Linked DNA regions of Homo sapiens: all the other regions are reported to be linked to region 2. Evidence: microRNA targets listed by miRTarBase, many of them from high-throughput screens and not tested one by one. Region 2 holds a microRNA gene; each other region holds the end of a gene's coding sequence.
The links. The annotated mature microRNA hsa-miR-6515-3p reads UCUCUUCAUCUACCCCCCAG and lies in region 2 at 1,538-1,557, opposite strand. An mRNA with a match to its seed (bases 2 to 7 or 8) in the 3' UTR can be bound and repressed. Matches are read on the target gene's strand: a 7mer-m8 pairs with bases 2 to 8, a 7mer-A1 pairs with bases 2 to 7 and ends in A, and an 8mer does both.

Region 1 (6,043 bases), not on the chromosome of region 2:
GAACTCAATGGCAGGAGGTGCCCCGTCCCCGGGGCCAGGTGAGGAGCCCTGGGGAGGAGAGCGGGGGTGTTTACCAGCTTGGTGCCAGCACAGACTTTGCTCACTATCCCAGCAGCTCTGTGCAGTACACACCCTGCACAGATGTTCAGCCCACACTGACCACAGCCAAGGCAGTGAGAGGAGGCCAGGTGTCTGAGTGTGTAGAGGCCATTGGCAGCCTCCATGGGAGGAGGCGACATCACCAGAAGGGCAGCTGGAAAGAATTTTATATCTGAGGCTGGAGTAGTTTAGAAACTGAGTTTGCAGTTTAGGCTGAAAACTCAGGGGCACCTTTCTGGTAGAGGAGGAAGTTGAACAGAGGCCTGAAGGGGATCTAAGAGGAAACTGCCACAAAAGGTGCAGAGGCCACAGTGAGTGGTCCTGACCTTGGCAACACGATGACCTCCTCTCTGCCTCCTTCCCCAACCCTGTTGGCCACCCCCAGCAGACACCGTGGAGATGGTGAGTGAAGTTGAGCCACCTGCCCCTCAAGTTGGTGCCAGGTCCAGTCCGAAGCAGCCTCTGGCGGAGGGGCTACTGACTGCTCTACAGCCCTTCCTGTCTGAGGCCCTGGTCAGCCAAGTCGGGGCCTGCTACCAGTTCAATGTCGTCCTGCCCAGCGGCACCCAAAGCGCCTACTTCCTGGACCTCACTACAGGTGCCGCTGCCCTCCTTGCCTCTCCTTCCCATCCAGCTTGCTAGGTTTCTTGTTACCTACCCCAGTGGTGCTCTCGTAGACTGCCCCCTGCTCCTGCCAATAATTTGGGGTGAACCCATGGCAGGCAGGGGCTCAGACACCATTTCCAGGCATTAACTATGCCCTGGTCTCCCCGCCATCCGCAGGACAATGCAGCCAGGCTTCCAATACCAAGAGGCCTGCCCGTGTTACAGGCCTGCTGCCTGTCAGGCTCTGTGCCAAGTACTTTTTGTACATTATCTCACCCACTTCTCACCATGAGCCTATGCTTTAGGAATTGTCATCTCTAAAGGAATTATCATCACAGATTTGGAAACTGAGGATCCAAGAGTTCACACAGCCAATAAGACTCAAACCCAGGGTATTAGAACCCAAACTCTTAACCAGTACTCTCCTCCCAATGGGAAATACCAGCCCCTCCCACCCCCATAGATCTCCTTCACGTTCCTCCATTCCCCTACTGACACTCGGTTTTCTTTTGCCCCACAGGACGAGGAAGAGTGGGACACGGGGTGCCTGATGGCATCCCTGATGTGGTGGTGGAGATGGCCGAGGCAGACCTGCGGGCCCTGCTATGCAGAGAGCTGCGGCCCCTGGGGGCCTACATGAGTGGACGGCTGAAGGTGAAGGGCGACCTGGCTATGGCCATGAAGCTGGAGGCTGTCCTCAGGGCCTTGAAGTAGCAGCCTTGGCTGACTTTCCAGAGCCCAGTCCCAAGCCTGGCACCAAGCCTGAGGGGCCTCTTGGAGGAGGAGGTGTTCATCTGCACCACAGAGAGTTGAGGCCCTAACAAATTTCAGGCCCAGCCAAGAGCCCATGAATGGAGGCTGCAGGAGGCTGAGTCCGGCTGCCATGCACGTCTCCCCTACAGTGGTTCTCTGGACAAGGCTTTGTCCATCCCGGTCCCCAGCTGAGTGCCCAGCGCTGAGCTGGGTGCACGGTGTGATTCCAGGAGGAGAGCCAGGCCTGCCCTGCCCTGCTGGCTTCCTGACTGGAGAGACAGGACCCACAGAAACAGCCTGACAGCAGCTGGTTTGGTCCTTGTGTGAGGGACCAAGCATGTGGCCCAGGCTCTAAGCTCTGCGGGGATTGGAGAGGGATGGGGAGGGAAGGGAAGGCAGCTCCAAGAAGAGGTCCCTGTGGCGAAGTTACCTGGGGATCCTGGCTGGCCCACCTTCCTGGCTGCAGTCCAGGCCCGTGCTGGCGGGATTGGGCATGGGAAGGAGCAGGGCCTGCTGCTTCCCTGGCGCTGCTCCCAAAGATTTCTGACTCATCTGCCAGCTCTGTCCTGCATGCCTGGCGAGCTGGGGCCCAGGGCAGCATGAAGGAGAGCCCTGCGTTCTGTGCTTCTTACCAGAGGTTTGCAAGCCTCAGACAAATAAATGTGGTGTTTACAATGTATAAAAGAGAAGAAGCCAAGCGGGGCTCCTGGGGGCATGGGGTGGGCTAGGAGGGTCCACAAGGTCCATGCTGCCAGCCCAGGCAGGGATTGACATCCTGGTGGCTGACACAGACAGACCCTCACAATATTTGAAGCTCCTTCTCCTGAGTGTCTCAAAGCCCCTGGAAGCAAGGGTGGGGCTGGGTGGGGAGTTCTGTTCCTCTTTGTAGTGGGATACAGGTTCACCAGGAAAGGAAGGCATGAGTGTGCCAGAGTGTCCTGCAAACACTGAGGGGCAGGTGGGGTGGTCATATCCCATTCAAGAGAGGAGTTGGGGCCACCGTCAGCTTCCCCTCCTGGTACACTCTGTCACTGCTTCTCCGCTCGCTGACGGGAAGGAAACAGTCATTGAGGTCTGGCCCCAGGCCCAGCCCAGCCCTGCTTTCTGCTCCAGTACTCTCGCCCAAACCCCAGGGGCCCCAGAGAAGGGGGCCTCTGACTTCTTGAGTCCTAAGAAAGGAATCTTACTCCTTGGAGAGACTTCTGGGAAAAACAAAACCACAAAAATCAAAGCCTCCCCTTAAGAACAGCCCCCAGCCTGTCCTGTGGCACCGCAACTTCCCTCTCCCCCAAGGGGTCTCTGCCCTTCCTGGGTGCCTGGCTCTGTCTTGTTTGCTGTCTGTCCCTGCCTTTGCCAGACACTGCCTTGTCCCGCCTCCTGGAGGTCCTCCACATTGCCTGAGGCACCTCCCTAAAGCCCAGCACAGACCCCTCTGTCACTGCCATGGCCATTGAGGTTCAGGTTTCCAGGGCCCCTTCCTAGAGTCCCAGGCTGCTGCACCTGCTGTTGCCCCTTTGCCTACTTGGAGGCCTCTCATGGGCCCTCCCAGGGCTTTCTAGCTGAGGCTGTCTGTTCCAAAGCCTGCCCTCCAATCCCCGCAGCCACACTGTGGCCACCCTTTGAGGCCCAGTGAGACTTGTCCTCTGTGCCCTTGCCTGGCTCTCTGCACCCATTCCACATTGTGTGTTTCTGCTCCTTGCATATATGGCTGCCCTCCCTGCTGGACTGGGAGCTTCCTGCATCAGCATTCACCTGTGGATTCCTTCCATTGCTATTACACAGTATATGAAGGGCTGCCCAGGAAACCCCAGGCATCTTCACCATGAAAGCTGGCACGGCCCCTTGGCTGGGGTAGGGCTGGAGGGTAGGGAAGACAGGAAAAATGAGATCACAACTTAGGGGAAACCCAAACTCTTCTTTGTGAGCATGGGAAGATCAACATAACGTTTAGGGGAAACCGAAACTTTTCTGGATGTCTGTGTAGGTGGAGAGTAAGGCCTGCCCCTGCCATGAATCCCCACCCTGTGGAGGGGAGCTCGATCCTTGGCCAGCACTCCAGGACTACAGAGGACTGAGCAGACCCTGCAGTCCACAGGGGAGGAAGGACAAGGGCCACCTAAAGGGTCGGTGTGAAGAGGGAGGAGGAGGGTGTGTGTCAATCAGAGAAGGCTTTCCTGAGGAGGTGATGTCCTCCACATCCCAGCTACCAAGTAGGTGGACAATAAGAAGAGATGGGGAAAATCATTCAGCAGAGGAGAAGTCCCTGCAAGGGCACAGCTGGAAGAGGCAGTCAGGCAACTGGGCTTCGGGGAACTAGAACCTGAAGTACCAGACAGGTTGTGTGCGGGCATTTGAGGGGCAGGGTATAGAAATAGTAACCATTACTGTGTGCCAAATATGTCCTTATACCGGACTAGACACTTCTTATTATATTTTTCTTCAAGATAACCTGGTGAATAATGATAATAGTTTAAGTATCCTAGTTAATATATTAATATATAATGTGTTATTTTGATGTTATTGAAAAGTATTTTATTTTTTTTTGAAACAAGAGTCTTACTCTGTTGCCCATGTTAGAGTACAGTACAATCTCAGCTCACTGCAACCTCTACCTCCCGGATTCAAGTGATTCTCCTGCCTCAGACACCTGAGTAGCCAGGATTATAGGCGCATACCACCACACCTGGTTAATTTTTGTATTTTTAGTAGAGATGGGATTTCACCATGTTGACCAGGCTGGTCTCGAACTCCTGACCTCAAGTGATCTGCCTGCCTAGGCCTCCCAAAGTGCTGGGATTATAGGTGTGAGCCACCGCACCTGGCCTTATTTTTAAGCATTTAAAAAAAATTTTTTAGACCGTCTTGCTCTATCACCCAGGCTGGAGTGCAGTGGCATGATCATAGCTCACTGTAGCCTTGAACTCTGGGGCTCAAACGATCCTCTTGCCTCAGCTTCCTGAGTAGCTGGGACCACAGGTTGTGCCACCACAACCGGCTAATTTTTAAAATCTCTTTTGTAGAGATAAGGATGTCTCCCCATGTTGCTCAGGCTGGTCTTGAACTCCTGGGCTCGCAGGATCCTCCCACCACAGCCTCCCAAAGTGCTGGGATTACAGGTGTGAGCCACTGTACCCAGCCAATATTTAAATTTTGGTTGGCTAAACATTTAAAAAGATAGGAAAGCATATTATGAAAATTCTCCCTCCACACATATTTCCCATGCCTTCCCCCATCCCCTGCGATTAGTTTCTTGGTAATTCTTCCTGAAGGTTTTGTTTTTTAAAAAAAAATATATGCAAGAAAATCCAAATATGTATCTTCTGGGTTTTTGTTGTTCCTGTTTTTATACAAATGGCAACATAGAAACACAATGTTGCCTTTTTCACTTAACATTACCCACTGAGGATCTTTCCATGTTACCACAGACAGCCTTTCCCTGTGCTTTCTTGTACTTACATAGGATTCCACAGTATGGATGTATCATAAATTATTCAACCTGTCGTGGACCGATAGACATTTTGATTATTTCTTGTGTTTTGCTATTTTAAATACTTTTGCAATGAATAACCTTTAACATGTGCTATTTGTGGTAGAGTTTATCTATAAGATAAAATCCTAGAAGTGGAATTGCTAAATCAAAGCATTTATAATTTAGTAAATATTGCCAGAATACCTTCTCTGGGGATTATACCAATTTACACTCCCATTGTCAGTGGTGTTTTTTTCTCATAGTCATGTCAATACACTGTGTTATTAAACTTTTGGGTCTTTTGACATTCTGGAAAGTGAAAATTTGTATCTCAGTGTAATTTTTTTGTTTATTGTTCAAGTTATTTTTTTGTTTTTTGTTTGTTTGTTTTGAGACAGGGTCTCACTCTGTCTCCCAGGCTGGAGTGCAGTGCAGTGATTGTGGCTCACTGCAGCCTCAACCTCCCAGGCTTAAAGGATCACCATGCCTGGCTTTTTTTTTTTTTTTTTTTTTGTAGAGACAGGGCCTTCTCAAGCTGGTCTCTAACTCCTGGCCTCAAGTGATCCTCCCACCTGGCCCTGGCCCGCTAACTGCTAGGATTACAGGCATGAGCCATCTAGCCCAGCCTGTTTATTGTCCAATTGTTTATTGCTTTGTAAGTCTTGGATTTCTAGCTCCAGCAAAGAACAGGGTTTGGTTTGGTTTGGTTTCTCTTCCCCTAGCATTTACATATTTTTTAAAGGTGTAATTTACATACAACAAACACCCTTTTAAAATGTATTATTTGGCTGGCTTGCGCCTCTAATCCCAGCACTTTGGGAGGCCGAGGCAGGTGGATCACCTGAGGTCAGGAGTTTGAGACCAGCCTGACCGATATGGTGAAACCCCATCTCTACTAAAAATACAAAATTTAGCCAGGCATGGTGGTACACGGCTGTAGTCCCAGCTACTCGGGAGGCTGAGACAGGAGAATTGCTTGAACCCAGGAGGTGGAAGTTGCAGTGAGTTGAGATCATGCCACTGCACTTTAGCCTGGGCAACAGAGTGAGACTCCATCTCAAAATTAAATAAATAAAGATAAAATAAAAAGTGTCATCTGAGGTGCTTTGACAAATG
Region 2 (6,043 bases):
AAGTCCCAACTTTTTTTGAGAGGGTCTCACTCTGTCACCGAGGCTGGAGTGCAGTGACATAATCATGGCTCACTGCAGCCTCGATGCCCCAGGCTCAAGTGATCATCCTTCTTCCTTGGTAGTTGGGACTACAGGTATGCATGACATCTCGCCAATTTTTAAAGTTTTTGTAGAGGCTAGGCATGGTGGCTAACCCTTGTAATCCCAGCACTTTGGGAGGCCGAGGCGGGCAGATGACCTGAGGCCAGGAGTTCGAGACCAACCTGGGCAACATGAAGCCCTGTCTCTACAAAAAGGCTGGGTGAGGTGGCTCACGCCTGTAATCCCAGCACTTTGGGAGGCCAAGGTGGGTGGTTCATGAGGTCAGGAGATGGAGACCATCCTGGCTAACACGGTGAAACCATGTCTGTACTAAAAAAAAAAATACAAAAAAATTAGCCAGGCATGGTGGGGGGTGCCTGTAGTCCCAGTTACTCGGGACCCTGAGGCAGAAGAATGGAGTGAACCTGGGGGGTCGTGCGGAGCTTGCAGTGAGCAGAGATCACACCACTGCACTCCAGCCTGGGCGACAGAGCAAGGCACGGTCTCAAAAAAAAAAAAAAAAAAAAAAATTAGCCTGGCATCCATAGTAGCACATGCCTGTAATCCCAGCTACTCCGGAGGCTGAGGCAGGAGAATCGCTTGAAACCAGGAGACGGAGGGCGCAGTGAGCTGAGATCGTGCCATTGCACTCCAGCCTCAGCAACAAGAGTGAAACTCTGTCTCAAAAAAAAAAATTTTTTTTGTAGAGATAGGGTCTCCTCGCTGTGTTGCCAAGCTAGGTTGAGTTGTGTAACTCCTGGCCTCAAGCAATCCTCTGTCTCAGCCTCCCAAAGTACCGTGATTGTAAGGGTGAGCCACTGTGCCCAGCCCCAGCTAACTAACTGGGTTACCTGACCACCTTCTAGGTCTTTGGGGGTAAAGAAGTTGATTTGCATAAAAGTACTTGGGGAAGTACTTGGTGCACAGCAAGTATAACCTTAAAGGGGTTGCTGTGAGGACTTCACAGGGACAGACCAGGAAGTACTGTTTACAAGAAGTACCATTTTTGAGTCAGACTCACCTGGGGTGCCTACCCTGTCCCTTTCCTCTTGGGTGATCTTATGCACTTGAGGTACCCCAGGGATCCTCCTTTTTCCTCCAAGTCTCACCTGCCAGAGGTCCAGGCCCAGCACGCCAAAGTTATCATAGGCATAGATACTGGGATCGGGAGAATACTCGGGGTTGTCAATTTCTGGGTGGATCCAAGTGCCCTTGTAATCTGGGTTGTCGATCTGCCGGGGCTTCCACTCACCCTGCAGAAGGGAGAAGGAAACCGAAGGGTGAGTAAGGTTGGTGCACTCCCCACTGTGAGCCCCAGCCCTGCTCAGAGCCCCAAACTCACCTTGTACTCAGGGTTCTGAATCACTGGGGGTTCCCACTCTCCGTCCATCTCTTCATCCCAGTCCTCGGGCTTCTTAGCATCAGGGTCAGGGATATGCTCGGGCTTGTCCCAGTCCTGGGGGGTAGATGAAGAGATCAGAGTTGGCCCAGATGTCTTCCACACCCTCCAATGTGGAGAGCAGAGCCCCTGCCCAAACACCAACCTCAGGCTTGGAGTCTGTGGGATCATCGATCTTGGCCCGCTCATCCCAGTCTTCCGGTTTTGAAGCATCAGGATCCTTTATCTTCTTGGGTGGCAGGAAGTCCCAATCGTCTTCCAAGGAGCCGGACTCCACCTGGCTGTTGTCAATCTTCACCTCATAGGTGTTGTCTGGCCGCACAATCAGTGTGTACAGGTGTGTAAACTCATCATCCTGAAGAAGGAAGAAGGTGAGCGGGGGCCACCCCCCAATGAGGCTGACCTCTGAATCTCCCCATGACAGCCATTTGCCACCACCCCCAGGCACACCTTGCAACGGATGTCCTTGTTGATCAGCACGTTCTTGCCCTTGTAGTTGAAGATGACATGAACCTTCTTGGTGCCAGGGCCACAGATGTCGGGACCTAGGTGTGAAGCAGATCCAGTTAAGAGTCAGAGACTACCCATCATCTCGAGGCTCTCACCCCTCTTTATAAAAGGAAGACCTGGTTCTTCAACTCGGGTCTGTCAAGGCTGAGAAGAGAAACTCAGACCCTGATTCTGTCCTGAATGGGCTGTGGGTGGAGCCTTAAGTTTAAAGGAGAAAAAAAAAAAATCAGTGCTCTAGAACTCAAAATCCTCATTAGTAAGATTGGGAAATAACTATATACAAACACGCAAATTAAATTAACAGCCTAGATCTGCGATCATAATGCAATAAATTGTTGCTGGGACTTATTCTTTTAGCTCCCCTTCCAAAAAAAATCATTATTAAGAAAGTCAATGGGGTCTGGGTCTCCCTCTAACTAATGGGACAGAGATCAGCACCAGGAAGCAGGCCCTCACCAAACATGATGTTGTATTCTGAGTCTCCGTGCATGTCTGTCTGGTCCAAACTATTAGGAAACAGCTTCACATAGCCGCCCCCACAGTCGATGTTCTGCTCATGTTTCACCGTGAACTGCACCACCAGCGTCTGGCCTTTGTTGCTGAAAGGCTCGAAACTGGCCGACAGAGCATAAAAGCGTGCATCCTGGCTTGTCTGCAAACCTGAGACGGGACGGTAGTGAGGTCACCGTTGGGCCTTGACTCGCGAGGACCCTCGACTTAGAGAATAGAGAAGACTCCCCCACTTCCTCCACCTGTCCTCCTCCAAGGGGACTGTCCCGGCTGTGTGTGTACAGACAAGGACTTCTGCCAGGAAGTCCTCCCGGATCTGAGCACCCACTCCTAGGCTCTTACCTTTATCTTTCTCCTCGTCACCGTAGAACTTGCCGGAACTGAGAACGAATTTGCCAAAATCTGACTTGTGTTTGGATTCGATCCAGCGGGAAGTCCACCCGTCTAAGTGGGGGATTAGAGGGGTAGGTCAGAGCGGCTGTGCTAATCCCCCCCCACACCAAACATCTGCCGAGAGCCACAAGCTGCTGGGGACAGGAAAGGAGATCCCCGACACTCCCCATTCCAACCTCTAGTTTGACACGTCGGGTGCCTTCAGAGATCCTCGGGCTAACCCTAACTCCCGCCGCGGGAGGCCGCTACGCCCTCCGCGCTCCCCAGGGACGCAGAAGAGAAATCGCCCGCGGCTCTAGTCCCGGGAGGCCACCGTGTTGGACCTCTAAACGGTAATTACGGGCGACAACGCAGATCCAGGATCGGGGGCCGGCCGCGTCGTCGGGGCGGCCTCGAGGCGGGACCAGGCGTTACCTCCGTCCAGAAACTGCTCCTTGAAGTAGACGGCAGGCTCGGCGACGGCCAGGCCGAGGAGGCCGAGCAGCAGCGGCACGGATAGCAGCATGGCGGGCCGAGGGGGCGGCAACGCGCGGGCCCTTTAAAACGACCCTCCGGCAGCGGCTCTGCAGTACGGACGGACGCCGCCGCCCGCCTTGCACTTTTATACCCACCCGCCTCTCAAACCAACCTGACCCAGCCCTTGGGCCCGCCCCTGCCACTTTGTCATTGGTCTATGCCCATGGCCGTCTTTTTCCATTGGACCTTCGTCGGTTCACTATGTTAGGCTGCGCCTCGGAACGCTGGGTTCCCAGATGGCCGATTTCTATTGGCCTCACCACCGACCAATGATGGTCGACCACGCGTGGGGGGGACGCCCACTGGTGGGGTGGGGGCCGCGAGCACCTCAGGCCAGGTCATGTGACCAGACCTGAACCCAACCCCGCCCTCGTCCGCGCGCGTCGTTGCCCATCTGGGCGTTTAAAGAAACCGCGGGAGCGCAGCTGTCTCCACGCGGGACCGGGACCCTGCCCTCAGCTTCTCTCCCTCCCATTCCCTCTAGGTGGAGGGGCTGGGCAAGGCTTTCTTAGCCAGCTCTTATCTTGCATTTGAGAACCAGCACCCCACTGCTGCTCCCCCACCCCTGCCTGGGATGGGAGAGAGCTCACGGATTGGGGCCCTTGGGGCTTCGCTGCACCCCGGTGCTACAGTCACGCGGGCCGGTGGGAAGAATGCCAGCCCTCTCCTCCTTCTGCCCCTAGAGCCCTGGCAGCCTATCGGACTGCTGCTGTGTGACCGGGGCAAGTCACTTAAGCTCTCTGAAGTGACAGACGTTCCTGAGCAGACAGAGGGGGCGACCCTGGCCAGATGCTACCCAGCAGAAATGCTTTTAACGTTTTTAAAGCTGTCCTGGGACAAGAGGGGAGGAAGGCTTAACGATGTGACTGTGACTTCTGGAGTGGGGATAGGGTTATTACCCAGATTGCAGCCGCCCCTTTACCCTCCTCTCAACCGGTAAATGAAGGGGGTCGCTGTCTGTGGTCTCCCACAAACGGCCTGGCTTTTGCAATTAAACGGCTATAGGCAGGCGAGAGGGCAGGGGGTTCCGTTTGGGGAGGGAAAAAAGACACAGATGGTAGGGACGATAAGATGCTAGGGAGATGGGCAGGACCCACCCCCCGACCCCAGTCTAGAGTCTTCTTCAGAAGCCAGAGGCACGTGACTGGCACCAGTACCCTGCCCCCACGCTGTAGAAAGGAGGAAGGAGAGCTGGGGGTTTTCCAAACTCTGGGCAAATAAGCCCTGGACCTGGGAGCGCGGGAGTGGACTATGGAAGGAGGGAATGAGGGGGATCCAGGAAAGAGGGTGGGGAGGGGGTGCTTCCTGGCTAATGGTTGTGACTCAGAAAAGAGAGGAAGGAAAAAATGAAAAGGAAAATAAAGTGGAGTGGGGGGAATGACTTGGCAAGGGTCTCTGGTTAAAAAAAAAAAAAAGAAATGGTGGCCGGGCGCAGTGGCTCACGCCTGTAAACCCAGCACTTGGGGAGGCCGAGGCGGGCAGATCATTTTAGGTCAGTTCGAGACCAGCCTGGCCAACAAGGTGAAAACCCATCTCCACTAAAAATAAAAATAAATAAATAAATAAAAATTAGCCAGGCGTGGTGGCGGGTGCCTCTAATCCCAGTACTCGGGAGGCTGAGGTGGGAGAATCGCTTGAACCTGGGAGCCAGAGATTGCAGTGAGCCAAGATCACGCCACTCCACTCCAGCCCACCAGCCCAGGTGACAGAGCAAGACTCCATCTCGAAAAAAAGACGGGGGAGAATGAACTGGGAAGTTGGGGTTCTACCACTTCCTCTAGGTAGTATTCAGTATTGCCTAGTCTGGTCCCCCCCATGAGGATCCCGGGGACCATCCCAGGCCTCTTGCTGACCCTTCCTCCTGTTCCTGTGTCAGGCACCTGTGGGCTTGGCGCTTCCTACTTGAGGTTAGACACTGCCTGTTTTGTTCACTTCGCATCCTCCAGTGTCACCTGCAGCACCTGGCACAGAACAGGCTTAAAAAGTACTTGCTGCATGATAGAAGAGAGGAAGGAAGGACTCTTGTGGAAATTAACTAAAAACACACGGGGCACAGTGGCTCACGCCTGTAATCCCAACACTTTGGCAGGCCAAGATGGGAGGAATGCTTAAGGCCAGGAGTTCAAGACCAGCCTGGGCAACATAGCAGGAGGCCATTTTTACAAAAACATTTTTTTTAATTGCCAGGCGTGGTGGCGCCTGCCTGTGTTCCCAGCTACTCAGAAGGCTGAGGCAGGAGGATCACTTGAGACCAGGAGGTTGACGCTGCCGTGAGCTGTGTTGTTGCCACTGCACACTCTAGCCTGGGTTACAGAGCAAGACCCTGTCTCAAAAATAAATAAAAATAAGCCGGACATGGTAGTTCACACTTATAATCCTAGCACCTTGGGAACCTGAGGCAGGCAGATTGTTTGAGCCCGGCAGTTCAAAACCAGCCTGGGCAACATGGTGGAACCTCATTCTTACAAAATATATATATGTACACATATGTAATATATTATATATGACATATAATGCATAAATATATGAATAGTATGTATATTATATATAGCATATAATATATAATATACATAACACAAATTAGCCTGGCCTGCTGGTACACACCTGTAGTCCCAACTACTCGGGAGGCTGAGG
Region 3 (6,043 bases), not on the chromosome of region 2:
TCGCGGCCCTAGCGCCCGCTCACCTCCGCTCCCGCCCCCGACGCAGCCATCTAGCCCCGTGGAGGATCCTCGGGCGCGGGACCGAGCTCGGGGCCCGGTGTTCCCGGGGGCGTTCGGTCGTCGCCCGCTGGGGCTTATAGTCTTCCGCGTCGGTGGCGCCTCGCCTGCTGCTCACTGGGAATTAGCTCGGCGCCCCGTTGCATTGTGGTCTTGGTAGTCTTTGCGAGAACGGCAAATGGCGGTTGCAGAGGCTCGTCCGAATTCTCGGCTCGCTGCTCCCTGGCTGGCGCGTGTTTGTTCATTCTGGGCTAGGTGAGCAGGGACAATACGTCGCCCTCTCAGGACTTTGCTCTCTCCTTAAAACCCGAGGATTCACCGTCAAGCTTCTGGTTTCTCTGACATCCTTCCCCAGCCGCCCCTTCATCGCCACCGATGATCCAGTGGAGAAGCTGTGTTGGAGGTCAAGGGATGGAGGCGAAACTGCGCGTTCTCGTCCCTGCAGAAACCGGAATATCCGAGACACATGACGAACATGAAACTTTCTCCTTGTCTCTTGGCTCCCACTCCGCTACACAGATGAACGGTGTTACCTTCCCTCATGTTACTTTGCTAAGCCTACTCCTCAGAGCTGGTCCTTTGCATAACCTCTTCAAATGCTCTCAACTCTCCCTTGCTCCTACATAATGGAGTAATCATAAGTGCAATGAGAAAAGCATGAGATTTGAAGTTCCATAAGTATTGAGTCTAGGTTCTGGTGGTTATTAACTCCATGATCTTAGGAAAGTATCTGTCAGTGTTCTGTGTAAAACGGAAATGCTAATGTGTATTTACCAGGACTTTTTCTTGCGAGAGGCAGATGAAATGTATCTCCGTTTCATGAGTAAGTTCAGAGAATATAAGTGACTTGTCCAAGGTCAGCAAGCTAATGAGTGGGAAAGCTGAGGCTTGAGCCTAGACTGTCAACACCCAGGCCAAAGATTCATTGCCTGCTTTTCATCTTATGGAGTTAAACCTTGATACACACTCAGATCTGCAGTGACTTGACCAGCACTGTGGGTTCATGCTTTACTGTCTGATAACGAATTTTCATTTAATTTTATTTTTTTTCTTAGACAGGGTCTAGCTCTGTCACCTAAACCTGATGAGGGCTGAGCCTTCATTTCGCCGTTTTTTGTTTGTTTGTTTTTGTTTTTGAACGAGATGGACTCTGGCTATGTTGCCAGACTGGAGTGCAGTGGCAAGTCACAGGAGCCATCATAGCGCATTACAGCCTGGAACTTCTCGTCTTCAGGGATCCTCCCAAGTAGCTGGGATTTCAGGCATGTGCCACCATACCTGGCTCTAATTTTGAATTTGTTTCTTTAAATTATTATTTGTGTTTGCTGAAATTGTGTGTGTATTATTTTTGTGTATGTGTGTGAGTAGTTATATGTTACATAAAGTAGGTTGTGGGGTTTTTTCCAGTAATGTTTAGCTATAATTGAAGTTTGGGCCGAAATCTGCTAGTATTTGTTACTCCTCACCAAATCCTACCTTATCTCACAACAAACTGTAAGATCTTGTGATATTTCACTTCCAATAACCTTACCAGGCATCAGAGTGGGGTCTCTACTCTGAAATTAAATATCTGCCATAAGGTATGTTGAAGACGTTAGTCTCTTTCCCAGGAGGCACAAAGTGCAAGTCTTTTCCTCATCGCTTGAGCAAATTAAACCTACCGGACAGTTTACTACAGAACTCAAACACAGCTGGGCGCAGTGGCTCACGCCTGTAATCCCAGCAATTTGGGAGGCCGAGGTGGGCGGATCACCTGAGGTCGGGAGTTCAAGACCAGCCTGACCAACATGGAGAAACCCCGTCTCCACTAAAAATACAGAATTAGCTGGGCATGGTGCCATATGCCTGTAATCCCAGGTACTCGTGAGGCTGAGGCAGGAGAATCACTTGAACCCGGGAGGTAGAGGTTGCGGTGAGCCGAGATCACACCATTGTACTCCAGCCTGGGCAACAAGAGCAAGAATTCATCTCAAAAGAAAAAAAAAAGAACTTAAGCATAAGCCACAAATAAGGTTTATCATTACCTCATCAATGCTTGGATACTTACATTTATCAAGTTATTACATTTTGCTGTGTAAAAAATATTATGTATGGTGAAAGGGGGATATATATATATTATGTATTAAAATATGTATTATATATTATATATTAAACATAATATAATTATATATAATTATATATTAAACATAATATATTATATATTAAATATATAATTATAATATATATTTAATATATATGTATAATATATAATTATATATTATATATAATATGTTATATGTTTATAAACATATACATGTTATATATATTATATATTTCCTATATATTTAATATATAATATATATAATTATACATTGTAATATATAATATAATATAATATATATATACTTAAGGATGCTGTGCATCAAGCCTGAATTTTTTTTTTTTTTTTGAGATGGAGTTTCGCTCTGTCTCCAGGCTGGAGTGTAATGGTGCGAACTCTGCTCACAGTAACCTCTGCCTCCTAGGTTCAAGCGATTCTCCTCCCTCAGCCTCCCAAGTAGCTGGTATTACAGGCACCCACCACCATGCCCAGCTAATTTTTTTTGTATTTTTAGTAGAGATGGGGTTTCGCCATGTTGGCCAGGCTGGTCTCAAACTCCCAACCTGAAGTGATCCACCCACCTCGGCCTCCCAAAGTGCTGGGACTACAGGCATGAAACAACGTGCTCGGCCCAAGCCTGAATTTTCTTTTGCATTTCCAGTAGTTTTGCCATCTTTGTTATTCAGCAAAGAGATGTTTTTGTTTTCGTTTTTGTTTTTTTGAGACAGAGTCTGGCTGTGTCACCCAGGCTGGAGTGCAGTGGTGTGATCTCAACTCACTGCAACCTCTGCCTCCCAGGTTCAAGTGAGTCTCCTGCCTCAGCCTCCCAAGTAGCTGGGACTACAGGCGCCCTCCACCACTCCTGTCTAATTTTTTTTTTTTTTTGTATTTTTAGTAGAGACGGGGTTTCACTATGCTGGCCAGGCTGGTCTTGAACTCCTGTTGTGATCCACCACGCCCAGCCAAAGAGCTGTTTTTGTTAAAGTTTGCTTGTCCCAGGCTGGGCGCAGTGGCTCACGCCTGTAACCCCAGCACTTTGGGAGACTGAGGCAGACTGATCACTCGAGCCCAGGCGTTCAAGACCAGCCTGGCCAACATGACAAAACCCTGTCTCCACTAAAAACACAAAAGTTAGCCAGGTGTGGTGGCACGTGCCTGTAATCCCAGCTACTCGGGAGGCTGAGGCAGGAGAATCGCTTGAACCCGGGAGGCAGAGGTTGCAGTGAGCTGGGATCGTGCCACTGCACTCCAGTCTGGGCGACAGAGCCACACTCGGTCTTAAAAAAGAAAAAAAGTCCTTGTCCCTCTGCTTGTAAGTACCACCAAAGGGCTATATTAACTGACTATTGGCCAGGCATGGTGGCTCACGCCTGTAATCCCAGCTACTTGAGAGGCTGAGGCAGGAGGCAGAGGTTGCAGTGAGCTGAGATCGCACTATTGCACTCCAGCCTCGGAGACAGAGCAAGACTCTGTCCCTAAAAATAAATGAATAAATAAATAAAATAACTGACCATTGTGCCTGGCACTTAGTAGATGCTCAATATACATATATGAATAAATGAACTTCTCATTTTCCTCACTAATAAAAGCAGATATTAATGCCTATCAAATAACTAAATGGATTGCTGGCAGAATCAAAGAAGCTTGCACAAATCACTGGATAAATCACTAGGTGCAGTTATTTCCCTGAGGCTAGGACTGTTAGAGTTCTTCTCGCTGGGAATTTCCTGTGCTCAGGACAAGGCTCTGCCCACAAGGGCATCCGGACCCCATGGCGGAAAGAGGATATCCAGACCTTCAGATCACTCTACCTCCTGCTCTTTGCTATTTTCCTTACCAACAGAACAGCTAGGGAAGAGACAGCAGTAGGATTAGTCCTGGTTCCACAGAAACCGAGCCTGATTTGGGTAAATCAATCACTTTGAAGACACAATAATTGGATTTGAGTGGAGAACAATTCTGACAATAATCCAAGTTACCCAAAACAGGAACATTTGTGCAAATGGTGGCCTTTAATACCAAGAAAGACCATGACAAGTGACAGAACAGGAGCAAATTCCCTAGTGTAGTGCCGAGCTAGCCTTTTGCAGGACCCTAAAACCTGATCTAGTAACAGAATAAATCAGTGTATTTACATTTATGTTTGCCCTGAAAACCCAGGTAAGGTCTGAAGCCTGAGGCATCTCTCCTTCCTTTCCTCCTCCCTCTCTTCCTACCTCCTTGCCTTCTTTCACTTCCTCAATTCATTCCTCTCCCTTCTCCCTTCCTCTCTCTTCCTTTTTTTCCTTTCTGCTTTTCCCTTTTCTCCTTTTTCTCCTCATTCTCTTTACCATCTACCTATGTGACCCTCCAAGCCCCTCTGCTATTTCTCCCCTGCTCACTCCCTCTGCCGTTGTCTCCCTCAGGTTCAGCTTCCGGGGTGGGGAGGCAAGAAAGGGTCCTCAGCCCAGGGAGCACTTGTTGGTGTTCTTCTTGTCACAAGTTTTCAGGTCAGTACTGGGAGGCTTGTTGCCGTTTCCCTAGAGGGAGAAGGGCACAGGTGTCATGGTGTGAATGGATGGTTAGGGTAGGAGGGTATAAACTGTTTAAAGTAAATCCACCCTCATGAGAAATCTTAGCATTGCTCCCCGTTTTTATCAACACCAACACACACACACACACACACACACACACACACATACATACACACACACACACCCCAGAGTTGTACCTAGTCCAGCAAAACCAACTTACTGATCTCCGGCCTCCTGACTTGAGCAAGATGTCCCGGGCCAGGGAACTAAAAGCCTAAAGTGGGGAACAGAGTCAGTTTGGAGGGAGGAGAATCTACCTTCTAATACTTCCTCTCTTGGTCGGGGATGGGGGTGTGGATCTCACCTCATCCACATTCATACTGGATTTAGCACTAGTTTCGAAAAATCGGATTCCATGCTCTCGAGCCAACTATAAGGGGTGAAGTGGGAAGAGAATTGAATTAAGGACAGCAGCCAAGTCCTCTGCAATGCAACCTATCTTGGCCCTCCCAGCCCAGTTCTAGAACATTGCTCAGCCTGGCCCTCACCTTATCGGCCTGCTCCTTCTGCACCTTCCTCTTGGCCTCCATGTCACATTTGTTCCCCAGCAAGAGGCGCTCCACCCCAGCCGAGGCATTCTGGGGGCAAAAGACAAGTAAAAGTTAGGTCCTGCCGGCTGGGAGCGGTGGCTCACGCCTGTAATCCCAGCACTTTGGGAGGCCAAGGCGGGTGGATCACCTGATGCAGGAGTTCAAGATCAGCCTGACCAACATGGAGAAAACCCGTCTCTACTAAAAATGCAAAATTAGCCGAGCATGGTGGTGCATGCCTGTAATCCCAGCTACTTGGGAGGCTGAGGCAGGAAAATCGTTTGAACCTGGGAGGCAGAGGTTGCAGTGAGCCGAGATCCTGCCATTGCACTCCAGCCCGGGCAACAAGAGCAAAACTTCATCTCAAAAAAAAAAAAGTTAGGTCTTGCCTATCCTGATGGACCCCTTCATTCTCCAGGTTCTAACCAGTTTCCCCATCTCTTTTGGAGGGTCCTCACCTCCTTGATGCTTTTCATCCAGTTCTGAATATTCTCGAAAGATTTCTCATCCGTGATGTCGTATACTAGGATAATGCCCTGGGAGATGACAAAATTCACCTTGGACCATGTTCCCATTGAGGCTTCCCACTGCCCTGTAAGTGACCCCGCATCCATGGGTCTAAACACTAGGCCATGTTGGGCCCTCTGCAACCCACACTGCACCCCTCCCATTTTTACCTGCCCCAACCCCTGACCCTTTGTATTCATAATATATTCTGTAGCCTCATCCTTCATCCTTTGTTCAGACCCACACTTCATACCATGGCTCCACGGTAGTAGGCAGTAGTTATTGTCTTGAACCGC
Region 4 (6,043 bases), not on the chromosome of region 2:
CAGCGATTACTGCACCAGGAGAAGGCACCCCTGTACCTGCAGCACTTCTGGGCCAGGGCTTTGGGACGGGACGCGAGCTGACCACCTGTTCCTTCTTTCCGCAGGGTCGCGGAGCCTCGCCGGCCGCCATGTGGAGCTGCAGCTGGTTCAACGGCACAGGGCTGGTGGAGGAGCTGCCTGCCTGCCAGGACCTGCAGCTGGGGCTGTCACTGTTGTCGCTGCTGGGCCTGGTGGTGGGCGTGCCAGTGGGCCTGTGCTACAACGCCCTGCTGGTGCTGGCCAACCTACACAGCAAGGCCAGCATGACCATGCCGGACGTGTACTTTGTCAACATGGCAGTGGCAGGCCTGGTGCTCAGCGCCCTGGCCCCTGTGCACCTGCTCGGCCCCCCGAGCTCCCGGTGGGCGCTGTGGAGTGTGGGCGGCGAAGTCCACGTGGCACTGCAGATCCCCTTCAATGTGTCCTCACTGGTGGCCATGTACTCCACCGCCCTGCTGAGCCTCGACCACTACATCGAGCGTGCACTGCCGCGGACCTACATGGCCAGCGTGTACAACACGCGGCACGTGTGCGGCTTCGTGTGGGGTGGCGCGCTGCTGACCAGCTTCTCCTCGCTGCTCTTCTACATCTGCAGCCATGTGTCCACCCGCGCGCTAGAGTGCGCCAAGATGCAGAACGCAGAAGCTGCCGACGCCACGCTGGTGTTCATCGGCTACGTGGTGCCAGCACTGGCCACCCTCTACGCGCTGGTGCTACTCTCCCGCGTCCGCAGGGAGGACACGCCCCTGGACCGGGACACGGGCCGGCTGGAGCCCTCGGCACACAGGCTGCTGGTGGCCACCGTGTGCACGCAGTTTGGGCTCTGGACGCCACACTATCTGATCCTGCTGGGGCACACGGTCATCATCTCGCGAGGGAAGCCCGTGGACGCACACTACCTGGGGCTACTGCACTTTGTGAAGGATTTCTCCAAACTCCTGGCCTTCTCCAGCAGCTTTGTGACACCACTTCTCTACCGCTACATGAACCAGAGCTTCCCCAGCAAGCTCCAACGGCTGATGAAAAAGCTGCCCTGCGGGGACCGGCACTGCTCCCCGGACCACATGGGGGTGCAGCAGGTGCTGGCGTAGGCGGCCCAGCCCTCCTGGGGAGACGTGACTCTGGTGGACGCAGAGCACTTAGTTACCCTGGACGCTCCCCACATCCTTCCAGAAGGAGACGAGCTGCTGGAAGAGAAGCAGGAGGGGTGTTTTTCTTGAAGTTTCCTTTTTCCCACAAATGCCACTCTTGGGCCAAGGCTGTGGTCCCCGTGGCTGGCATCTGGCTTGAGTCTCCCCGAGGCCTGTGCGTCTCCCAAACACGCAGCTCAAGGTCCACATCCGCAAAAGCCTCCTCGCCTTCAGCCTCCTCAGCATTCAGTTTGTCAATGAAGTGATGAAAGCTTAGAGCCAGTATTTATACTTTGTGGTTAAAATACTTGATTCCCCCTTGTTTGTTTTACAAAAACAGATGTTTCCTAGAAAAATGACAAATAGTAAAATGAACAAAACCCTACGAAAGAATGGCAACAGCCAGGGTGGCCGGGCCCTGCCAGTGGGCGGCGTGTGCTAGCAAGGCCTGCCGGGTGTGCCGCAGTCACCACAGGGTTCTGAGAACATTTCACAGAAGTGCCTGAGACGCGGAGACATGGCTGGTGTTAAATGGAGCTATTCAATAGCAGTGACGCGCTCTCCTCAGCCACCAAATGTCCCTGACACCCTCCCCAGCCCCCACAGATAACATCAGCTGAGGTTTTTTTCAGTATGAACCTGTCCTAAATCAATTCCTCAAAGTGTGCACAAAACTAAAGAATATAAATAAACAAAAGAAAGGTGTGTTAGGATTTCTGACTGAATACCAGAGCTGAAGGGCCCCCAGGGGACAGAGGGCTGGAGGCTGTGTCACACGGGGTCTGGTGGGAGGGCCAGGGTGGAACCTTAGGCCAGCTCCGAAGGCACCTGGGACCAGCATCCGTATCTCCGCGGCCCTCGCAGCCTCAGATGGGGCCCGGACCGGCCTGTTCCACTTGAGCGAACAGGTCTGCAGTGAGGAGGGTCCATAGTGGGGCGGGTCCGTAGTGGGGCGGGTCTGTAGTGAGGCGGGTCTTAGTGAGGTGGGTCTTAGTGGGGCGGGTCGGTAGTGAGGCGGTTCCTAGTGAGGCGGGTCCCGAGTGGGGCGGGTCAGTAGGTGGTTCTTAGTGGGGCGGGTCTTAGTGAGGCAGGTCTTAGGGGGGCGGGTCCATAGTGAGGCGGGTCCGTAGTGGGGCGGGTCTGTAGTGAGGTGGGTCTTAGCGGGGCGGGTCTTAGGGGGGCGGGTCCGTAGTGAGGCAGGTCTTAGTGGGGCGGGTCCGTAATGAGGCGGGTCTTAGGCAGGCCCGTAGTGGGGCGGGTCTGTAGTGGGGCGGGTCTGTAGTGAGGCGGGTCCGTAGTGGGGCGGGTCTGTAGTGGGGCGGGTCCGTAGTGAGGCGGGTCTTAGTGAGGCGGGTCTTAGTGAGGCAGGTCTTAGTGGGGCGGGTCCGTAATGAGGCGGGTCTTAGGCGGGCCCGTAGTGGGGCGGGTCTTAGTGGGGCGGGTCTGTAGTGGGGCGGGTCCGTAGTGAAGCGGGTCCGTAGTGAGGCGGGTCTTAGTGAGGCGGGTCTATAGTCAGGGGCAATTGTTCCTCGTCAGCCTGGCTGGAGACCTTCCACCCATTGGGATTTTGTAAAACATCTACTTTAAAATGTGGCCGTGAGAAAAGCCCCCATTCCTCCCCACCATCTGTTCGCCTCTCCCCGATTTTCTAGGATTAAAGTATAGGCCTGCAATCCCCTACCTCCAATTCTAAAGCCCACAAAGCTCTGAAAACAGGAAGATGTTCCCCCCAAGTTTGCGGCAAATTCACTGGGCAGCGATCCCTGACCTGAAGGGGTGTGAGAGCTTCATGTCCATGAGGACCCCACCCCTTCTGAAGACGGGCGATGTGGCTGTGGGAGCTGCCCTGAGCGCCCCGGGGTTCTGTGGCACACTTCCTCCCCACAGCCTGAACGCGCTGGAATTCTGAGTATGCCCGGCCCCAGGGACAGTGGGGGTAGGGTGGGGGGAGTGGCACCTTGCAGCCATCGACGTGGGGACGTCACGCTCTGGTCCCAGTCTCCTGGGAATTCAGCCACGAGGTCACTGGCATTATTCATCACGTGCTGCAAGCAGGTCAGAGTCGGCCTCGTGAGGACGCGGCTCTGGGTGGCTCCTGCGGGGAGCTCAGACCCGCGGGACAGGCTCCTAAGCCGTGGGATTAGAGAACAGTTTTCTGAGCTGTTTCTGTCAGTGTTTGGTTTTCAGGTGTGAACCTTTAAAGCCGCAGGCCTGACCTCCCTCCCAGTCCCTCTGGAGCCGGAGCTGGTGTAAGGGCCGCGTCTCTGATGGTCCTGGGCTTCCCATCTCCATGCCTGCGCGGAAACCCTGGCATCCGATGAGGAAGTGATCACACAAGCCCACAGAACCCTGCCCAGCGGCTGGCGCCGTCAGCCCAACCCTCCTACCCCTGCAGCCCAGCTCTGCAGGGTGGGGTGTCCGTGCTTGAACCAGGAGACCCTCTTCCTGGCCGATACTTTCCAGCCCCCCTTGGCTCCACGCTGAGCTCCCAGGAAAGGGGCGGACCCCACACACAGGTGAGGGTGGCACTGGGCTGCCTCTGCCCGGGAATTACACCATCCAACTATCCTCCCCAAAGGCAGGAGGGGCCTAAAATCACTATTTCAATTTCTCAGTGGCTTTGGGTGCAAACTGGCTCATTTCTGTGGGTCTGTTGCAGGGACTGGCCTGCATTCAATACCCCTCATCCCACCCTGCTGGGTGGCCCTGTGGAGGGCCCCAGGGACACCCTGCTGCCTGGTCAGCTGTTTGTTCCTGGTGGGCCCCACACAGGGCAGGCACATGCCTCCAGCGCAGACCCTCGCCTGCTACCTGAGACACTTCACTGTGCACCATGGCCTGCCCCAACCCCCTACCCAGCGAGTCCCCTCCTCATCCCCAGGTTCCCGCCAGCCTCTGCTGCCTGAGACCCTCCACTGAGCGCCAAGGCCTCCGTCCTCATCCCCAGGCTCCCGCCAGTCTCTGTGGCTGCTTCCCAGGAGCTGCGTCGCTGACTGTTCCTGAGACACCTGCTCATCTATATTCTATGTTGCCTTCACCTGGGAAGATTCGGCACCTCCTGAGCCTCCTGCCGCCCCTGAGAGATTCCCAAAGCCTTCACCTCATCACACACAGAACACAAGAACTTGAGCCACTCGGGGCAGAAAAAGGAGCTACTTGTAAAAAGTCAAGGTAGTCATCTGCCCAACTCCCCAGTTCTTCCAGGCAGCCGTCTCCCCAACTCCCCAATTCTTCCAGGCAGCCATCTCCCCGACTCCCCAATTCTTCCAGGCAGCCATCTCCCCAACTCCCCAATTCTTCCAAGCAGCCATCTCCCCGACTCCCCAATTCTTCCAGGCAGCCATCTCCCCAACTCCCCAATTCTTCCAAGCAGCCGTCTCCCCGACTCCCTAGTTCTTCCAGGCAGCCATCTCTCCAACTGCTTAATTCTTCCAGGCAGCCGTCTGCCCAACTCCCCAATTCTTCCCCAGTTTGTGAGACACCAGGATGCGAGTTTTTCAGCGCGTGACGTCCCAGGGTCAATGATATTGCTACCAACACTTCTTGACTACTATAGTTCAAAAATCATTCATCTTATTTTTGTTTATCCACAAAAAAACCTTGCCCTGCTTCCTTAAGTAAGATTCCAGAAAGGGAGTTTAGTTGTAGATTCACTTCATTAAAGTTCTAAGAGTTATTGTAGGAAGCTGGATCTAGTGTGAATTGTGGCGAAGAGATCAGGAAATCTACACACGTCTTCTTTCATACACAGCACACGACAGAGGGAAAGCAGGAATAGTAACCGTAACAGAAAGTATCATAAAATTGGTTATTTCCCCTCGAATTGTACGTCTTAATACTTTCGGTTACCCCTCTGTAGTTCCTCTTTGCAGAAATTCTGTCCACCCAATCACCCAGGAGTGGTTCCACTTCACACACGCCCGGCACGCAAACCATGTCTCCACACGTCTCAAACGGTAGCAGAGGGAGTACCTTGGCTGCTGGCGAAGGAGTAAGCCACGCGGGCTGAAGGAGCAGGCCTGCCCCACACAGGCGTTACTCCTCCCAGAAAAATAAGAATAAAGTCACCATTGACTACACCCCTGAGGGCTTCTGTGGCCCTGAGGATGGAACTGAGGTGTTGGGGTATCCTGCAGCCCTCCCAAGGATTCCGGCAGAAGTGAGAGCACACGTTCCTGCCTCCGCCCTGCTGCACAGGGCAGCCTGGCAAGAGCTGTATGGCGGTGCGCACGGTCCGCACTCCGTCAGGTTGGGAAGTGAAGGAAGAGCAGAGAATCTAGGCAGGAAGCATAACGTGAACATGCCCATTTCACATGTACCCCTACTCCTACCCCTAACCCCTAACTCTAACCAACTTAAACCTCACCTAAACACCCTATTCCTAACCCCCTAACCACCCTAACCCTAACCCTCAACACCCTCATCTGAACCCTAACCCTTACAGAATCGCTCTGGGCCTGCCTGGCTTTGCCAAGCCTGAGCGTGTGAGTGCATCTGACCTGCCCCCTCCGTTCTCTCTGGGCTCCTCCATCCTGTGTCTTCTGGCATCGCTCACAGACCCACGCCCCATCCTGCTCAGCCACCTTGACTCGCTGGGGGACCACAAGATGAACACAGCTCTGACACTGCCAGCTGACCCCGGCCACATCTGGGGCTTCCACGCGACGCTGTCCCCAAACAGCAAATCTTTGGGTACAGATGGGAGGTGTCCTGAGGCTGGGACAAGGACTGGGCAGGGGCTGGCAGCCGGTCTGGCAACATAAGCAAGCCCCTGGCTTTCCCTCTGCTCACTGCCTTGGCTCTCTTCCTCACTCTGTGACTGATCGGGTGCTCCTGAGAAACGGGCTCCCTGTGCTGCTCCTGGGGTGTGCGTC
Region 5 (6,043 bases), not on the chromosome of region 2:
TCTAGATTACAGCAGGGACGCAACTCCAATTTTCTTTTCTTTCTTTCTTTTCTTGGTGAAGGTCCAATTCAATATACTATTTATTGCCCTCCATGAAATGGGTGAAACTAAAGATATTTTTAATTCTTTGTGTTCAGCCACTGATGAAATCTGACCAAAGAAAGTAGTTTATTGCAGGTACCCAGGGGTTAGCCCTGAATAACGTTGATCCGCAAATTTAAATTAGATTAAAAGAAAAGAGCTCTAAAAACTTTAACCTATAGATGGACTGCACACTCAGAAGCCCTGGGGAAGGGCCAACTCTGGTCACATTAATTGTCTCCCCTGTCACTGCCAAATGACAGATCTTCTAATATGAGGACAGGTTTTAAGTTTCCTAAATGACACTGTGGAAAAGTGAGCAGATGGGACCTACACCAGCCCGGGGCAGTGCTTAACTCCCTGCCTAAAATCACAAAGAAGTTATGAAACTGAGAAATCAAACACTTCCTGAGTTAGCAGGGTGTGGAACACACTGGGGTCTGTATATAAGACACAATATGTTACTTGTGTTAACAAGTGAGATGGTTGATGACTTGATCATCTATAAGTAATCCTTATAGAGCCAAAAAGCCACGTCCAGCCTGTAATTGCTCACTCATCTTTGTTCCGACCACTGGAAGGAGGCTCTGTGAGGGTAGCAACAGGCTCAGCTTATTCACTGCATGACTTAATACCACATAGTTAACACTCAAAAGAGATAGACTGAACAAGTCACATTTTATTAGGATACAAGTGACTCAACCTCTATTGCATTCTGTGGCGGTTCCACATGTTTCTCTCCTACCTGGAGTCAAATCCTGAACTCAAAGGGTTATTTGAAAATACTATGCCTTTAGGTATGGAGGGTAGGGGGTGTAATCTGTGGCTTTTCCCTTGAAGATCCTACCCAAGATGGGGTTTGGTGGTGTGTGTGGGGTGTGTGTGTGTGTGCGTGTGCGCGTGTGCGCATGTCCATCAATAGGTGCATTTGTGAATATGAGCCACGTAAAAGTTGCAGGTGCATCTGAAGTCCCTTTTAGCTCTCATCAGTTTAGCTTCTGGAGATCTTTTAGCCCCTTGACTCAGCTTTTCTATCTGCAAAATGGGGATGAACTTCAGTGTTCTGTTTCACTGAAGAGAGAGTTCTAATAATTACTATAATGGTATTTCTTTGAATGAAAAATGTCACTTGACCAGCAGATACATTTTAGAAGACTAAAGATTGAAGGTGGATTAATATCCCAAGGCAGCATTGCTAAAATGCAAAACTTTTTCATCAGAAAAAAACATACTCAATGTTTAATCAATATGTGAAATATCTTGAAATCCAATGTTCACTTTTTAAAACACTATATATGGCACTTTACAAAACATTTCTAACAAATGTTGAGTCTTCTTCATGAATGGTTCTTCTTTGTATGGGGATAATTGACCCAGTGACCAAAGGTTTCTAGGACAGATTACAGTTTCCTGTATTATTATTCTCTTTCATTTTCAGTCACTAGGAAATTACCACTGCTGCTTGGCAATGCAAAGAATTCCCAATCACCCAATATTTTGGCATGTTTTAATTGTCTTTCACCTCTGAATTTTGAAGCTTGCTTCTATATTTGAAACTATTCAGTGCCACCAAGTTGTTTATTCAGACTAAGAATTGGATATTCCTATGGCACACTGCCACGTGCCTATGCCACGATGCAGAGGTTTTCCTTTCATTGAAGTTTCACAGTTACTTTTGGAATTGTCTGCAGGATTCACGATTTCAAACACACACACACACACACACACACACACACACAAGACAGGGCAGGGGAGCAGATGGGATCTGAGTGCCACAGTGGGCTCAGAACCCCGGGGTTAGAGCACCCTCCTAGCCACCTGGCAGCAATGCCCTGGCCTGACCAACAGGACCACGTCCTTCTGCTGCCTGCATTCAGTGAGCTCTAGGGACTGTGGTCAAGTTCACCAAGCCCTGGCCAGAAGAAAGTATTTAACCATAAAGTGACCTCAAGCTGCATTTTTTTGTTTTGATTTCAACAGTTTCTTTGCTATGGGAAAATGTTTCTTTGGGATAATGAGTCTGAAGCTGACTGTGCCATGCCTGGGCCTATGAAATGCATTTTGGCCTGGCTTCCCCTCTCCTAAGCACATCCAGGCATGTGGGCTGTTTTGGAGGAGAGAATGGTTTGGCCATCTAACCCCACCCATGTCCAAATACCTTGCACTGCTGGAAGTATTTTTAACCAAGCTTTTCTCATGAAGATTTCACCTATTTGTTTATACTATTACCTACTAATGGTATAAAGCTTTGAATAAATGAGCAACTTTCAAACGGTAAAAAACGATCTTTGGGCAACAAACCAAAAGTTGAAAAATCTTAAATATTTTTTTCTCAATTTTAACATAAATACCATTGTTAGAGAAAAAAAAAAAGCAGCTTCCCAACATCTAGCAGTCATGCAGCCATGACATTCCATGTTTACATCCACACGTGTCAGCCAATTTTCTCAAAGCTCCACTGATTGTCCAATTGTCCATTGCATTTTCCAACTGTTGTCAAATTTAATTAGGAAAAGATCTTTCCAAGTTTCCTGCAAGTTCAGACTCTAAAATGGGGATGTTTGTCATAGCAGTGGAATTCTTATACGAAATAGCATACACATGCCAGCTATGTATGTTATATTGGTCTTTATTTTTAGCATTTCATTCTATTAAAATAGGTTCAAGGGATACTTTTTAAATGTATAAGCTAAGGAATTTATTTTCCTTTCCTGGTCTTCTTTAATTGTATTGCTTATGGGGAGTGTCCCCCCAAGAGAGATTGCGGGTTGGTTGTGAGTTTAGTTAGGCGACATCATCACCTTCAACACAACTGGCACTCTGCTCACCTGCTTGTGGAGGGCAGCAGCAGAGATGGCACGTGGAGTTAGGAGCCACTGCTGATGAAACATATGACCAGGGCCAGGTTTATCCCAACTCCTGGCTCCTTCTCTCCATGTTCCCCCGCCTCCTTCCTTCTCCCTCCCTCTCTGTCTTACGCACACACGCACACACACACACACACCTCACTCTTCAGCAGGGCCATGATGAGTCAGCTCTAGGGACAGTCAGGAGCCCTGCTCTCATTTCCAGCACTGGTGGCAGCTGCAGTGAGGGGCCCTGCAGGCAGATCAGGAATACCTGCGTGGCTGGGGCTTAGGATTGCTAAACCAGCCTGTCCCACTCCAAAGTAACAGTAACCTGTCTCCACTCTCTTCCTGGGAAGGACCCCTCCCACCCTCCCCCAAAATGCAGGGAAGATAGGTACCCCCATCAACAACAAGGTGGGTACCCCCCCCCCACCAACGTCTCCATCTCCAGGGAGTCCCAGATGCCACAAAGACTCAGGGCATCTGACTGGGGCACTTAGGTCCTCTAAGGAGTACAGAGGCCAAAAAATTCCTCTTCCCAGTGACTGGGGGCTCCTTGTCCTTCACAAAGATACCATCCCTAAGAAGGAACTGGGTGGGGCAGGGTTCAATTTACACAGGAGGCTGCTGTTCAGGAGCTCTGAACACACGCACAGCTTTGGCTCAAACTGTGGGTTTGGAGGGGAAAGAGACCAAAACAAGTGTGGCCTTCCATGAGCCTGTGTGAGTGTGGGTGTGGGTGTGGGTGTGGGTGTGGGTGTGGGTGTGGGTGTGTGAGTATGAGTGTGGGTGTGGGTGTGAGTATGAGTGTGGGTGTGTGTGGGTGTGAGTGTGGTGTGAGTGTGGGTGTGAGTGTGAGTGTGGGTGTGAGTGTGAGTATGAGTGTGGGTGTGAGTGTGGGTGTCAGTGTGAGTGTGGGTGTGAGTGTGGGTGTCAGTGTGAGTGTGGGTGTGGTGTGAGTGTGGGTGTGAGTGTGAGTATGAGTGTGGGTGTGTGTGGGTGTGAGTGTGTGTGGGTGTGAGTGTGGGTGTGGGTGTGAGTGTGTGTGAGTGTGGGTGTGGGTGTGGGTGTGAGTGTGGGTGTGAGTGTGGGTGTGAGTGTGAGTGTGAGTGTGGGTGTGGGTGTGGGTGTGGGTGTGAGTGTGGGTGTGAGTGTGGGTGTGAGTGTGGGTGTGGGTGGCACAAACCTGGACCCTTGGGGAACTCCTGGGTGCTGGGCACCGCTCCTGTGGTCAGTGGTGGCGGGGCCCTGGGGAGTTGCCTTGTCCTAGAGGGGGGTCATCAAGGACCAGGGCTGAGTGACAGGGAAGGGAGCTGGTATCCCAAGGGCGCTTTCTGCCCACGCAGTGCTTCTCCCTCCCACCACCAGCAGTTCCAACCATTAGCAAGACCTTCCTTACACAGGACCCAATGCCAACTGTCTCAGATCCCCTCACTGCAGGCTCCTGGCCCACCTGGAGCCCACTGCAGCTGCTCCTGAGCTCTGTCCCCCAGCCCCTGCGGCAGCTTCCCTGAAGCAGAAGGGAAGGCCCTGAGCCAGGTGGGCCAAGCTGGGTGGAGGTGGAAAGGGCCCCCACCACCTGGGCCGCTCTGGCAGCCCACCTTCTTCCCATCTGCTCTAAGGCTCTTTGGAGTCAGCCAGCCTCCTTGGAAAACGCTGGAGCTGAGGGCCGACCCGCCGCCCCTTCAAGGCAAATCCCTCGAGAGCACAGGTTCTAGACGCCCAGGGCGGCTGGACTTAGAGGCAGAGCAGGGAGGTTCCGAAGGTCGCCTGGGTGAGGGGTGCACAGCAGAAGGGCCACCCACCCCAAAGCCCAAGAGCCGCTCAGCCCAGCTCCCTGCTGGCCGAGCCGCCCCCGGCTCTGCGCTTCCTCCCAGGGCACCAAGGCCTTCAACGCCAACACGTGGGGCTGTCACCAGGGGAAACCGGAGGCCTGAGCTCAGCACCTCTGGACCCGCACCCGGCTAGCCTCCAGCCTCCCTTCAAACTTCGGTCCCTTCCCGGCTGTAGAGGAGGTGACTGAGGCGGAAGCCGGCGGCCGCGGTCTGGTGGCCAGGGGCGAAGCCAGGGGAGGGGTTAAGGGTCTGGGGAGCGTGGGTGGCGACTGTCGGTGGCCGCCTCCCGAAAGAAAAGTCGCCCGCCAGGCCCCCGGGGAAGGTGCCAAGGCCGCCAGCCAGAGCGCTCATAGCAGAAGCGAAACCGGAGAAGCAGGTGGCGGCCTCGGGTGCGGATGGAGAGGGCGAGGCCTGCAGGTCCAGGCAAGCCGCGCTCGGGGGCTCCAGCGCTGGCGCCTCGGCCCCTCCCACGCTCCTGGCTCCCGAGCGCACGGCCGCGCTGGCTTCAGCTCTCCTCTTCCTCTTCCTTCGGAAGTTCCCGTTGTCAAACATCTTCTCGCAGTTGGGGTCCAGGGTCCAGTAATTGCCTTTACCTGCAGAAGAAGAAACAGCCCAGTTCAGAAGGTTCGAGCTTTGACGGGCCGTGGTGTGAGCCAGCGAGGAGGTCAGCTTCAGAAAGATCCCCTGCTGGCCCTTACAGAGGGTCTGAGTCCTCGCCCCCATTCCACCCTTGACGGGCACTCTGTACCCGATGGGCCTCCACAGCAGGACTGGGAAGAAAGTGACAATCCAGAAAGGAGGAGGAAGGGAGCCCTGGGAAAGGCCGAGCCCCGTTAAGGTGAAGGAAGGCCTGCGAGATGCTAATGGTGGGACTCCGCCAGCCGCTCTGCCAAGGACAGCGCAGACCACGCCAGGCCCCCAGGTAGGCTCCAGAGCTTTCCAAACGGGCATCCTATTTGTTTTGCCCATCCTTGGGGTAGGCGCTGTCTTCCCCATTTTACCAGGTAGGGCACTGAGGCCCAGGGAAGTTGAGTCACTCCCAAGGTCACCCAGCTTGCTGGCTCTCCCGCTTCTTCCTCCGAAGGAGCGCACAGAGATTGAGAGCCCCGGGACCGCCGCACTGTAAACGCGGGCCTGTGGTGGGCTCAGCCGCTGTCTGAGAACCTGTCCATGCCCAAGCACTTCTTCCCCTTCTCCCTCCTCCCCGGGTATCCCCAACCGCGCAGGGAGAAATTAGGTTGTCTAAGGTGCTCCCACCCCCGGAGTGCCCGCGGCCCG

Region 1: the mRNA of STOML1 is a reported target of hsa-miR-6515-3p. Seed matches in the 3' UTR shown: 7mer-m8 at 3,589-3,595 and 7mer-A1 at 3,684-3,690.
Region 3: the mRNA of RAB13 is a reported target of hsa-miR-6515-3p. Seed matches in the 3' UTR shown: 7mer-A1 at 4,407-4,413 and 7mer-A1 at 4,343-4,349.
Region 4: the mRNA of GPR146 is a reported target of hsa-miR-6515-3p. Seed matches in the 3' UTR shown: 7mer-A1 at 1,230-1,236.
Region 5: miRTarBase lists FOXI2 as a target of hsa-miR-6515-3p. Seed matches in the 3' UTR shown: 7mer-A1 at 3,272-3,278 and 7mer-m8 at 3,090-3,096.

What each region holds. Positions count from the first base shown.
Region 1 is chr15:73,979,313-73,985,355 of GRCh38, reverse strand. STOML1 (stomatin like 1) reads left to right here. Exons shown (of 7, transcript NM_004809.5): 5 at 1-38; 6 at 485-697; 7 at 1,226-6,043. The coding sequence ends at 1,419. Among named protein-coding and RNA genes, the nearest start is that of STOML1, 10 kb to the left of the region's middle. RefSeq lists an enhancer at 3,335-3,524.
Region 2 is chr19:12,936,035-12,942,077 of GRCh38, reverse strand. It overlaps MIR6515 (microRNA 6515), which reads right to left and starts at 1,594; the gene lies at 1,538-1,594. It overlaps CALR (calreticulin), which reads right to left and starts at 3,469. Exons shown (of 9, transcript NM_004343.4): 1 at 3,308-3,469; 2 at 2,843-2,944; 3 at 2,447-2,650; 4 at 1,931-2,025; 5 at 1,626-1,835; 6 at 1,424-1,537; 7 at 1,191-1,334. The coding sequence starts at 3,398. RefSeq lists enhancers at 1,022-1,649, 986-2,185, 3,078-3,127, 2,422-3,171, 3,798-3,847 and 2 more and a cis regulatory region at 3,229-3,867.
Region 3 is chr1:153,977,521-153,983,563 of GRCh38, forward strand. RAB13 (RAB13, member RAS oncogene family) reads right to left here. Exons shown (of 8, transcript NM_002870.5): 3 at 6,001-6,043; 4 at 5,699-5,776; 5 at 5,199-5,288; 6 at 5,015-5,080; 7 at 4,871-4,924; 8 at 4,130-4,656. The coding sequence ends at 4,579. JTB-DT (JTB divergent transcript) reads left to right here and starts at 223. Exons shown (of 1, transcript NR_186180.1): 1 at 223-1,640. It overlaps JTB (jumping translocation breakpoint), which reads right to left and starts at 154. Exons shown (of 5, transcript NM_006694.4): 1 at 1-154. RefSeq lists enhancers at 1-273, 275-324 and silencers at 1-44, 333-627.
Region 4 is chr7:1,057,388-1,063,430 of GRCh38, forward strand. GPR146 (G protein-coupled receptor 146) reads left to right here. Exons shown (of 2, transcript NM_001303473.2): 2 at 105-1,874. The coding sequence starts at 129. The coding sequence ends at 1,130. The region is part of intron 2 of CHLSN (cholesin); the gene reads right to left. Among named protein-coding and RNA genes, the nearest start is that of CHLSN-AS1, 5.3 kb to the right of the region's middle. RefSeq lists an enhancer at 5,017-5,186.
Region 5 is chr10:127,737,835-127,743,877 of GRCh38, reverse strand. FOXI2 (forkhead box I2) reads right to left here. Exons shown (of 2, transcript NM_207426.3): 2 at 2,695-5,358. The coding sequence ends at 4,913. Among named protein-coding and RNA genes, the nearest start is that of FOXI2, 3.7 kb to the right of the region's middle.